Linked DNA regions of Homo sapiens: region 1 is linked to region 2. The links come from fine-mapping of genetic effects on gene expression. A gene starts in region 2. The other region holds a variant in brackets. All regions are shown on one strand. Distances are from middle to middle.

Region 1 (5,362 bases), 22 kb after region 2:
TTTAGAGCCCAACAGCTGACTTCTAGTTCTAAGGCTGAAGGCTAGGTTTATCACCATGGAAATAGATTTTTCAGTGGAAAGTCCAGTGGAAGCAAGGTGGGTCCTCACTTTCTGAGCACACACAGGAACCCAGTTCTCTAGAGCATCTGAAATGGCCATGTCTGCCCTCACAGGTGTGAAATCCTACCCAATAGAGGATCCTCTGACTTGTGAAGGTTACAGATTAATGCCTTGAAATATTAGTTTTAAAAAACAACAACAAACTAGGCCAGGTGTGGCGGCTCACACCTACAATCCCAGCACTTTGGGAGGCCGAGGTGGGTGGATCACTTGTAGCCAGGAGTTTGAGACCACCCTGGCCAACATGGTGAAACCTCGCCTCTACAAAATATACAAAGATTAGCCGGGCATGGTGGTACATGCCTGTAATCCCAGCTATTCAGGAGGCTAAGGCATGAGAATCATTTGAGCTTGGGAGGTGGAGGGTGCAGTGAGCCAAGCTTGCACCACTGCACTCCAGCCTGGGAGACAGAGCGAGACCATGTCTAAAAAATAAATAAAATAAAATAAAATAAAAACCAACCTCCTCCCCAACTTTTTTGCAGATGACAAGACAGATGTCTGGAGAGGTGATGTGACTCACACAAGGACACCTGGCTACAAAGCAGCAGAGCTGGCGGCAGCCCTGGGGCCTGTGGGCAGGGCCCCATCCACCAGGCTTTGTTTGTTCTCCCCCACTGTCAGCCTGTGGCTGTCATGCCCGTGTGAGAGGGAAGCCACAAGGAGAAGGCGCAAAGATGCAATTTTTCTTTGGTCCCTTCCTTGTGCCAGACATGTATTCACACGCATGAAATGAAAAGAGTCTAAGATGAAGGGTGTTGTTCTTGAGACTGGCCATGTTTGAGGGCCATTTTAAAAGGTTACCTGTAGACATGGATTTTTGTGGTGGCTAGATCCCGGGCTCATTTGGCCTCTTAAGAAAGCTTTAGAAGGAAAGGCTAAAACCCATGGTTGGAACGTCTGTGGGCAAAAATATTCATGGCAAACATGTTCATTCAGTGTTCAAATATATGTGCATCTATGTGCTAAGCTCTTCATAGGATTGTTAAGAGAACTAGGCTCAATTATCTTCATCCCCACCTTGCAAGAGAAAACTAAGACTAAGATGTTAACTAAATTGTTCAAAGCCACACAGCTACTAAGTGACCGAGCTGAGCTCAAACTCAGGCTGTCAGTTCTAAAATCCAAGCTTGGTTAACCATGATGTTCTTCTAATTGACCTGAGTGGGAAGAGAAGGAAACTCTAGATTATGGTGGAAACTGAGGTCAAAAACAAGCAACAGGGCCAGGTGCAATGGCTCACGCCTGTAATCCCAACACTTTGGCAGGCTGAGGTAGGTGGATCATTTGAGGTCAGGAATTCCAGACCAGCCTGGCCAACATGGTGAAAGCCCGCCTCTACTAAAAATACAAAAATTAAAAAGTAAATAAAAAAAAATACAAAAATTAGCCAGGCATAGTGGCATGCTCCTGTAATCCCAGCTACTCAGAAGACTGAGGCAGGAGAATCGCTGGAACCTGGGACACGGAGGTTGCAGTGAGCCGAGATCGCGCCACTGCGCTCCAGCCTGGGCGACAGAGTGAGACTCCATCCCCCTGAAAAAAACAAACAAAAAAAAACAAGCAATAGGTCAGTGGACAATGGTTTGATATTTTAGCCACTAAGCCAGGGTAGACGAGGTTTCCCCTGGGCCATAAGAGGCAGAGCTCAGAGGAAAGTTCCCCTGCAGGGTCCTGAGACCCTTTTGGGCAGCAGCAAAGAAGGCCTCTCATCTGTGGGCATGTGAGCTTCACATCTCAATTCTCTGAGAAAGGGCTGAAGTGCACCCCAAGACTTGTCACAGAGAAGCTGATGGTCCCAAGCTTGCTCCATAAACAAATGCAGACTGCTGGAAGTAGGATGTCACTGGGCTATTAAAATTCTAGAAAATATTCCAACTTAAGCAGCAGAGACAGAAAAAAAGAAGGAACCAAGAAAAATGAATAAATAAAAAATAATTATAGAAAAAATATAGTGTTTTAACACAGGTGAACCACATTACAGTGCACCCTGGCTAGAATCACGGAAGGTGGGGAAGAAGGGGTGCCATGACTTCTCTTTCTGCTCAGAAAGGGAGAACATATTAAAGTGTGTCCTGGCGCCAAGTTACTACTTTGCCTTCATTTCCTCAGCTGTAATATGGGAGGTAACAGTACCGACCTCCCGGAATGGCTGGACGGATTTAAATGAGACAGGCTCTGGCACAGTCCCCAGTAAACAATAAACAGTGAATATATGGTTGCTGTTAATATTCTAAGACATGCTACAGTGGTGTGGAAATCTTTTTTTAAATTGCTCACTGTATTGCCACTTTCTTTTCTGCTCCCCCCACCAACCATATTTATAAAAAACAAAAAACCAGCAGTGGCCAAGATATTATACCAACATGACACAGGCAGACAACCACACTTGATCTTTACAATGAAGCATGTGTGTTTCCACTGTTATAGAAGTTGACTCAGAAGCACACAATTTCCTCCAGCAACCAGGGGAGGGGTGGCTGAGGAGAGGGGGTGGCCCAGTGACAGATGGCCTGGAGCAGGAGGGAAGAGCAGGGACTCTGTTGCCAGACTGTGTGTTCACATTCCCGTGTACCACTTCTGTGTGTTATTTGACAAGTTATTAATTTTGGGGAGGCCTCAATCTTGTTGCTTGTAAAACAAGGATAAAAATACCACCAACTCCATCAGGTTGGCATGAGGATTAAAT[A/T]AGCAAATACACGTAAAATGCTTAGAGTAGTGACTGGCACATAAATGCTTCAGGGTTAGTTAGCTGCTGCTGCTGTCACTATGACCATCATCATCATTAAAACACAGGAGGAGCCTCAGAGCAGAAGGACTGAGCTCAGATGGCTCTAAGCAGAGTGGACCCCAAAGGGACTTGCACAGCACTCTAAGAATGGTATCCATTGGTGTCCCCAAGCAGCTTATGGTGACAGGAGTGAAACTTCAGCCGCCGATTGTTGACCCACCCCTGCCAAAAGCCACGCTGTAACTCAGGACGGGCTGTAACTCAGGACGATGCCCCACTGAGGACAAGGTCATAACATAGGAAGGAGCTGTCATACAACCCCAGACCTGTAACACTGGAAGGCAAAAGAACCAAAGCCAGGCCTGGAGGAGCAGCTGGGGCTGAAACTGAGGCTTAAGAAGGGAGTTCATGGCCAAGGCAGCCTAGATCCATGTCCTGAGACTGGAGCACTCACCTGAATGGCAGAAGACAGCCAGGACGAGCAGCAGCCCGAACAGGACAGACCCTCCTTGGATTCCCATTGTGATTGTCCACAGAACCTGGAAGGAAGGGACAGGAAGGAATGTCAGGAACGAACAAATGACTGCTGGTTGTCTCAAAAACCAAGGGCTGGAAGGCCAAGAAGGCTTCTGAGAGGAACATTTACAGGGGGAGTCAAGGCACACTGAATCCCTGGGCCATGCCCCAGCTCTGACCCACAGCACCATATACCCTTGAGTAGGCTCAGTCCCTATAAGCCCCAGTGTGTACTACCACACTGTGGGAATAACACTATCTTCCCCATCAGGGTCAGTGAGTCAAATGACAATATGAGCAAATTGACTCATATAGCCACTGTGGTTCCCACTCTACTGGCCCCACCCCAAGCTGCTGGCTGAAAGAGAGGGCCACTTCTCGGAGCCACAGCACTAAGTGAATCAGACCAAAGGGGTGACTCTGGAAGGCACCAGCATGCATTCAGCAGTGGAACAGGGAGCAATGGCTTAGCATACCTGGAAGCTCTGGCTCCTCACTGTAAGAAGTATAATGGGGACACTTGCTTGCTCTCTTTGGGGACATGAAGAGAGGTATTGAGCAACTTTGTAAGTTTCCATTACGTGAATGCCTAGATGTGTAGTGATAGCATCAGGTGAGAAGAAGGAAAGCCTGAAATGCCTCCAACCCTACTTTACCCAGTAAAGAAGCCAAAGCTTAGGGAGGTTTTGAACTTGCCTAAGTACAAAGCATCCATAGCAGAACTAAGAAATCTCCCAACTCCAATCCTACATCCCTGAACCCATCCTGAAATAAGGAGGTGGCAGTGCCTGTAAACCAGGGTACTCCATATTCTATTCTCCAGAGCCCCACAGGCCCGGACAGACAGATGGGTTCTTGGAAGGGTGAGTCATCTACCCTCCCTAAGTCAGAAATGCAGAGTTCCCTGGGGAACTGACAATCCTGACAATCATTCCTGTCCCTTCCTTCTCACACATCTTGAAGGTCATCTGCTACTTAGGAATTTGCTGACGCAGGCCAGTGGAGGACTGAGAAGTTCCAGGAAAAGGGCAGGGTCTGACATTGTCCAAAAAAGAAAACAATCAGTGAGTCAAGCCTGGAGATGGGGGTGGTGGAGATGAGAAAGAGGTGGTTTTATGATATGTGAGGAACCAGGAAGAAAGACAATTGTCATCTGGCCTTTCCTTACAAATTGAGGGCTCCCCACCACCCGCTGGGCTCTGAAACCTACAGCCTGCTACGGGACACCATCCCCCATGTGGACCTTCCCAGGAGACCTGGGCTCCAGCACATGCCAGCGGCTTGCTTGGTTCCCCATTTTCAGGGGTTTCTGAGTAGGAAGGGTGATTTATAGACTCAGGTTAGACAGGGCTCCAGTATACAAGGAACTGCTACAAGTGAGCAGGGAGAGGAAGGTATTGGTCTGAGGTCCCCGAACAGAGAGCTCCAGACACTTCCTAAAAGTTAAGCATAGCATGATCGGAGCCTGGGTATTATAGTGAGACCCTGTCTCTACAAAAATAAAAACATTAAAAAAAAATTAGACTGGTGTGGTGGCACATAACTGTAGTCCCAGCTACTTGGGAGGCTGAGGTGGGAGGATCGCTTGAGCCCAGGAGGTAAAGGCTACAGTGAGCTGTGACTGTGCCACTGCACTCCAGCCTGGGTGACACAGCAAGGTCCTCTCTCCAAACAAACAAACAAAAACCCAATGTAGCTACAATGTCAGGCATCCCCACGGAAGGAGGAAGGAAGGAATCTCCTGACTCGGGTTAGGCACTGGAAAGGTGTCAGGCTGGCAGGAGCTGCCGGTTCAGGACACTTCCCTTGGAATGGTCCTTGACATAAATCACACTGCCACAACACACAGGGCCCCTGATGGGGAGCTGTTCTTTGAAGTACCTTAGAAAGAAGTGGCCTGCTAAGAAAGCAGGAAGAACACAATGAAAGGGTTCAGAGCACAGGCATTCCAGTCCAATCTGGAGGCCTCTGAACAAGGCCAGATAGTTCTGGCTC
Region 2 (5,372 bases):
TGGTTCTCAAAAATGCTGCCATGCTCCCATCTTTGAAGCAGCCTTTGCACTGGCCCTTCTACCTGGCACATTCCCTAGGGTGTCACGTGGCTATGACCCTCAACCTCCTTCAGACCTTGTTTAAATAATACGTCTTCAAGAAACCCCATGTGAAATTCTGCCCTGCCTTCCTCTGACCCACCCTGGCAATCCTTACTCTGCTTTTTTTTCCCCCTTAGCATGTCATCTTCTATGATACCATATTATGATTTACTTATTTATAATATTTATTGTCTGTCTCTCCCCCACCCCCAATCCCAAGTGCCTAGGCACAAAATAAGCACTCAATAAATATTTCTTGAATATATGAATTTCTAGGAAGGTCCAGGGCTTTGATAAGATTATCAGAGAGTTTGTGGTCCAAAAAACATTTTAAAAAAAATGAAAACACCAACCACTTCCAAGGAGTAAATATGTTTGGGAAAAAAAACAAACCACACACCAAACCTCCACTATTCCAGTCCTCAAAGAACCTTTCTGAGCAGAGACACAGCAGTAGAACCAATATATACATTGCCCTTGGTTTCTCCCGATTCCTTCCTGATAATCTGTTGTTCTGGTTTGCATGACTGTGGTAGTGTTGGGGGTTCCCTCCCTGGTCTCGGGAGACCTTGAATGCTGGCTGGACAGCAGCTTCTAGACACCATGAGAGAGCTCCCTCAGCAGCACATAGAGAGGAGAGAGACCATGAGATTTACCACACAAAGTGGGCACTGTATGTGAAGTACATGCTGGTAGCAACAAGAACAGCGGTAAATACAGAACAGAAAATAACCATCTTTGAAATGACAACAAATGGGACACATTATCTAAGCACTAACACCTAAGGAGGTGGCTGCCCAAGCTCTGGTAGGCAGCTCCTCAGGAGAGAGAGGCCGACTTCTTTCCAGGTTGCTTGGTCTTCAGTCCTTGTAACTTTTCGTCTTTTAGCGCCTTCAGGAATGTGTCTGCAGGAGAGCAAAACAAACTTAGCCGTAATAGAGATAAGGGCTTTTCCTAACACTTCCAAAGCAAACTCTTGGGAAGCAACTGTGCTTCCTCGACCCTAAAACTCCATTTGTGATCCAAGATGGGAGAGAAAAAAACAAAAAACTGAAAACTCTGACTGTAAAAACATGTAACTGGTTCTGACTGTACATGCAACACATCCAGTTACATGTGTTTTTACAGTCAGAGTTGCTAAGTCCTGGATTTCTTCTTCTTCTAATTTTTTTTTTTTTTTTTTTTTTTTGAGAGGGAGTCTCACTCTTTCACCCAGGTTGGAGTGCAGTGGCACAATCTTGGCTTACTGCAACCTCGGCCTCCTGGGTTCAAGCGATTCTCCTGCCTCATCCTCCCGAGTAGATGAGATTACAAATGTGTGCCACCAAGCCCGGCTCATTTTTGTATTTTAGTAGAGACAGGGTTTTACCATGTTGGTCAGGCTGGTCCTCAATGATCCTCTTGTTGGTCAGGCTCCTGACCTCAAATGATCCACCCGCATTGGCCCCCCCAAAGTGCTGAGATTACAAGTGCCAGCCACCACACCCGGCCCCTGGATTTCTTAACTATGTATTCGGTTAAGATTTCTTAACTATGAATACATAGTATTATGTATGTATTCATAGTTAAGAAATCCAGGACTTAGCAAAGCCCAGTTTTTCTAGGGACTGTCTTCCTTCCATGGCTATGAGAAAGGGTGCATTACAGTGTGTCTGATGAACTGAAGACCATTTCCATGGCCACACGGACCTAAGCATTTAGGTTATTTCATACTTCCCTTCTCTGTGTGGCAGGGGAAGCCAACTTAAGCCGTTATATACGATAGTTGGAATGATCTTTTTAGAACTATCTGCCCTTCTCCAGTGGTCAAGGACAAGCCTTAGCCAAAACAAGTGATGGGAAAGACAAAGTCTGCAGGACAACCTACCGCTACTGAAAGTTCTACTTTGCAATAGGTCCTTCTTGGAGTACAAGGCATTTAACAACTTTACCCTCCAACAGGGAGGAGTCATTCAGCTCGTAGGCTGAGGGATCCTGCCCGCATCAGCACACGTGGTCCAGAGCCCTAAGACTTCAGACGTAAGACCAGATATCAGCCCAGGATCCTGGTGAGAGAACTACCGGCGCCAAGGCCACAGAGTCCCAGGGGGGCTGCCCCCCAGCATTGAGAAGTGGAGTGTCCCAAAGCTGCCCTGGAAACGGCCTTGGGCCTTGTGGTTCTTGCACAACTCCCACCTCCCCCTACAGACAACTGACAGTCACCTTACTTCACCTTCCCCCCATGGAGAGCCCCGGTTTAGGACCGAACATTAAAGCTTAGGGACTGTCTGTGGTGGGTGGAGCTCCAGAGTACAGGGTAGGAGGATGACTGTGCAGGAGGATTAAAGTTCAGGACGGGGTGGTGGCGGATGGAGTTCCAGGTGTGGAGGCTCAGAGTCCAGATGACCCAAAGGGTTTAGGACGGAGGGAGGATGGAGTTTGGGACTAAGAGGCTCATGAAGTTCAGATCTGTGGTGGGGGGAGGAGTCGGTTAAGTCCAGGATAAGGGAGTCTGGGTGCTAGGGGATAGATTTTGGATCTGGGACTACTGGGGGCTGGAGTCAAACCAGGCTACATTTCGGGTCGGGGCACGGAGCCAAGGAGGGAGCTAGGGCAGGCTAAGGCTGGGCTCGGTGGCCCTGGCGAGGTCACGCACAGCTCTGGGAGTCGAAGCCGTCCCCAGTGATGGTGAGCAACTCCAGCTCCTTAATCCGGATCTCCAGCTCGCAGAGCTCCTCCGGGTGGGAGGCAGAGGCGAGCCTGGGGGTCGAGGGGCAGGGGACCAGGGGCGAGGCAACCACCTCAGGCCCCGGCGGCGGTGAGTAGAAGAAGCGCAGAGGCTCGTAGGGGATGGAGGCCAGGCCGGAGGGCCAGGGCGAGGGCCAGGGGCGCTCGCTGGAGGGACCCAGGCCGGGTGGTGGCGGGGGCGGGGGCGCCGGGGCGGGGAGCGCCTGGGACAGGGACCGGGCCCCCGCCGCCCCGCCCACTGGCGCCCCGCCCGCCTTCAGCGGCACGAAGAGCTTCTTCCAGATGTTGAAGTCGCTGAGCGGGGACGAGGAGATGCCGCGGTCGTACAGGGACGGGAAATAGAGGGGCGGAGCCGACCGCTGGCTCATGGTGGGGCTGTGGCTGCCGCGCCGCCCCTTTGGCATCGTTTGAATGAGGGTCTGCGTGGGAGGAACCCCGCGCCGGGAGACGCGCGCTCAGGCCCCGAGTCGCCGGGGTTTCGAGGTTCCACAAGCCCCGCCCCGATGGAGCGCGGCCCCACCCTTTCGCCTCAGCCCGGCCCCTAACAGGCGGGGTTCCAAAGCCCGGACGACCACGTCCCGGAACGCGGCCCCGCCCACCTCGGCTGGCCGCACCCCGCAGTTAGAAAGCCACGCCCCCTGGCTCGCCTCGCCTCGCCTCCCGTCCCTCGACTCCGCCCACCGCCTCGCTCTTGCTCTGCGACCCCGCTGGCTTCCGTTGTCATATCCCAGCATACCCTCATCCAGAACAGGCAGCGGGCCAGGGCTGCAGAAGAAAGCTTACTTCAGGCTTCCTCTCTTTCTCCCATGAGGGAGAAAAGTATTTCCTAGAAACCTGGCCCCTGCACCAGCAGACTTACCTCATTGCCTCACTGGCCGCGCCCACAGCAAAGAAGTCTGAGAAAATCAGTGTCTGATTTTTCATCCACTACTGTGGGAGGCAGACAAAGGAGAAGAGGATTGATTGGGAATGGCTGTTAGAGCCAACCTATGTATCTGCCAAACGTTAGCAGTGTTGAGGAAGATTCTAGAAAAGGGGATCCTCATCTGGTTTGTAATAGACCTGAAGGAGTGTTTTCAGTGAAATGCAGTTTAGTTCTCTTCCAAACACAGATATCACCAGGAGCTAACAGGCAACGAGCTAACCACCAAAAGGAAATCCTGTCCGCCCTACCTCAAATACTTCACCCATTGCTTATGAGCGATTTGGACATTTTGTCCAAAGGACATGACAGCTCATTTATGTGAGTAACCTGTATTAGCCATAGACTGAGGGGAAATAACTAATACATTTTCTTGAGAGCCTCTGCCTAATGATCACTGGTATGACTAGTGATGGGTGGAGGGCAGTTAAAGAGTCAGTATCAGCTTCACAAGTTAAATATATATATGCATATGTATCTGCACACACAGTGCAAAGTGTGTGTGTGTGTGTGTGTGTGTGTGTAGCAGCAAAGTGGAGAGAGTCAGATATTCAAGCTGGGTAGCCTTGGACAAGTTGCTTGACTTTTAAGTAGGTTTTCCATAAAATAGAAATAAGAAAACCAGGCTGCCTCATAGGGTTGTGATCAAACAGAAGACGGAACAGTGTGTGTGTGAAACACTTGAACTTGGACACTTTGTCCAAACACAAGAGGCAGCTGTCCCTACTAAGGGGCATGTCTGAAACTGGGAAGCTTTTTCTTCCCACACTGAGCTTCCCACACTTAGTTGTCACACGCAGTATTTGCTCTCTGACTTTGGCAGCCACCCATCATTGTTTATTCATACAAGTGATCACTAGGCTGAGGCTCTCAAGAAAATGTATTTCCCCTCAGTCTATGGCTAATACAGGCCATGTGCGATAGCTCAGCACCCAGCCTGTAATCCCAGCACTCTGGGAGTCTGAGGTGGGATCTCTTGAGGCCAAGAGTTTGAGAACAGCCAGGGGCAACATAGCGAGATTCTGTCTCTATAAAATAATTTAAAAAATTAACCAGGTGTGGTGGCATTTGCCTGGAGCCACTCAGGAGCTGAAGTGGGAGGATTTCTTGAACCAAGGAGGCTGAGGTTGAGGCTGCAGTGAGCCACAATCATAGCACTGCACTCCAGCCTGGGTGACAAGGCAGGACCCTGTCTCAAAATAAATAAAATAAAATAAAATAAAAAATACCCTTATCTTCCATTAGTTTCCCCCACATATTTAACTTCCCATAATTTACTGCCCAAGAAGCTCAAACCTCTTTTCCTTTGTCTTATCACTTTTCTACAATCGCCCATTGTTAAAATTGTATATAAGCTCTCAAGCCACTTCTTTGGGTTTTCACTTTGTTTCTGTAAGAACCCCATGTACCTGCGTAATAAACTTTGTCTTCTGTTAATCTGTCTTTGTCAGTTTAATTCTCAGGCCCCAGGCTCTGAACCTAAGAGATTAGAAGAAAAATTTTTTCACCCCTACAGAACCACAGTAATGGTAAGAACCAGGGTTTTGGACTCAAGACTTGGGACCAAACCCTGGATCCACTATGTATTTGGCTGTGCGGCTGAACCTTTCTCAACCTCATTTTTTCATCAATATAATGGGAA

The links. PIP is the estimated chance that this variant, and not a neighbour inherited with it, causes the effect. A credible set is the group of variants that fine-mapping cannot tell apart.
Region 1: its variant is the best candidate, but not a certain one, in a credible set for the expression of C11orf91 in breast (GTEx, PIP 0.76).

Annotation. Positions count from the first base shown.
Region 1 is chr11:33,719,074-33,724,435 of GRCh38, forward strand. It overlaps CD59 (CD59 molecule (CD59 blood group)), which reads right to left. Exons shown (of 4, transcript NM_000611.6): 2 at 3,306-3,390. The coding sequence starts at 3,372. Among named protein-coding and RNA genes, the nearest start is that of CD59, 15 kb to the right of the region's middle. RefSeq lists an enhancer at 4,923-5,012. The variant A/T (reference allele first, on the strand shown) is at 2,810.
Region 2 is chr11:33,697,529-33,702,900 of GRCh38, forward strand. C11orf91 (chromosome 11 open reading frame 91) reads right to left here and starts at 3,298. Exons shown (of 2, transcript NM_001166692.2): 1 at 2,717-3,298; 2 at 733-986. The coding sequence starts at 3,212. The coding sequence ends at 901. RefSeq lists silencers at 2,964-3,053, 3,234-3,473.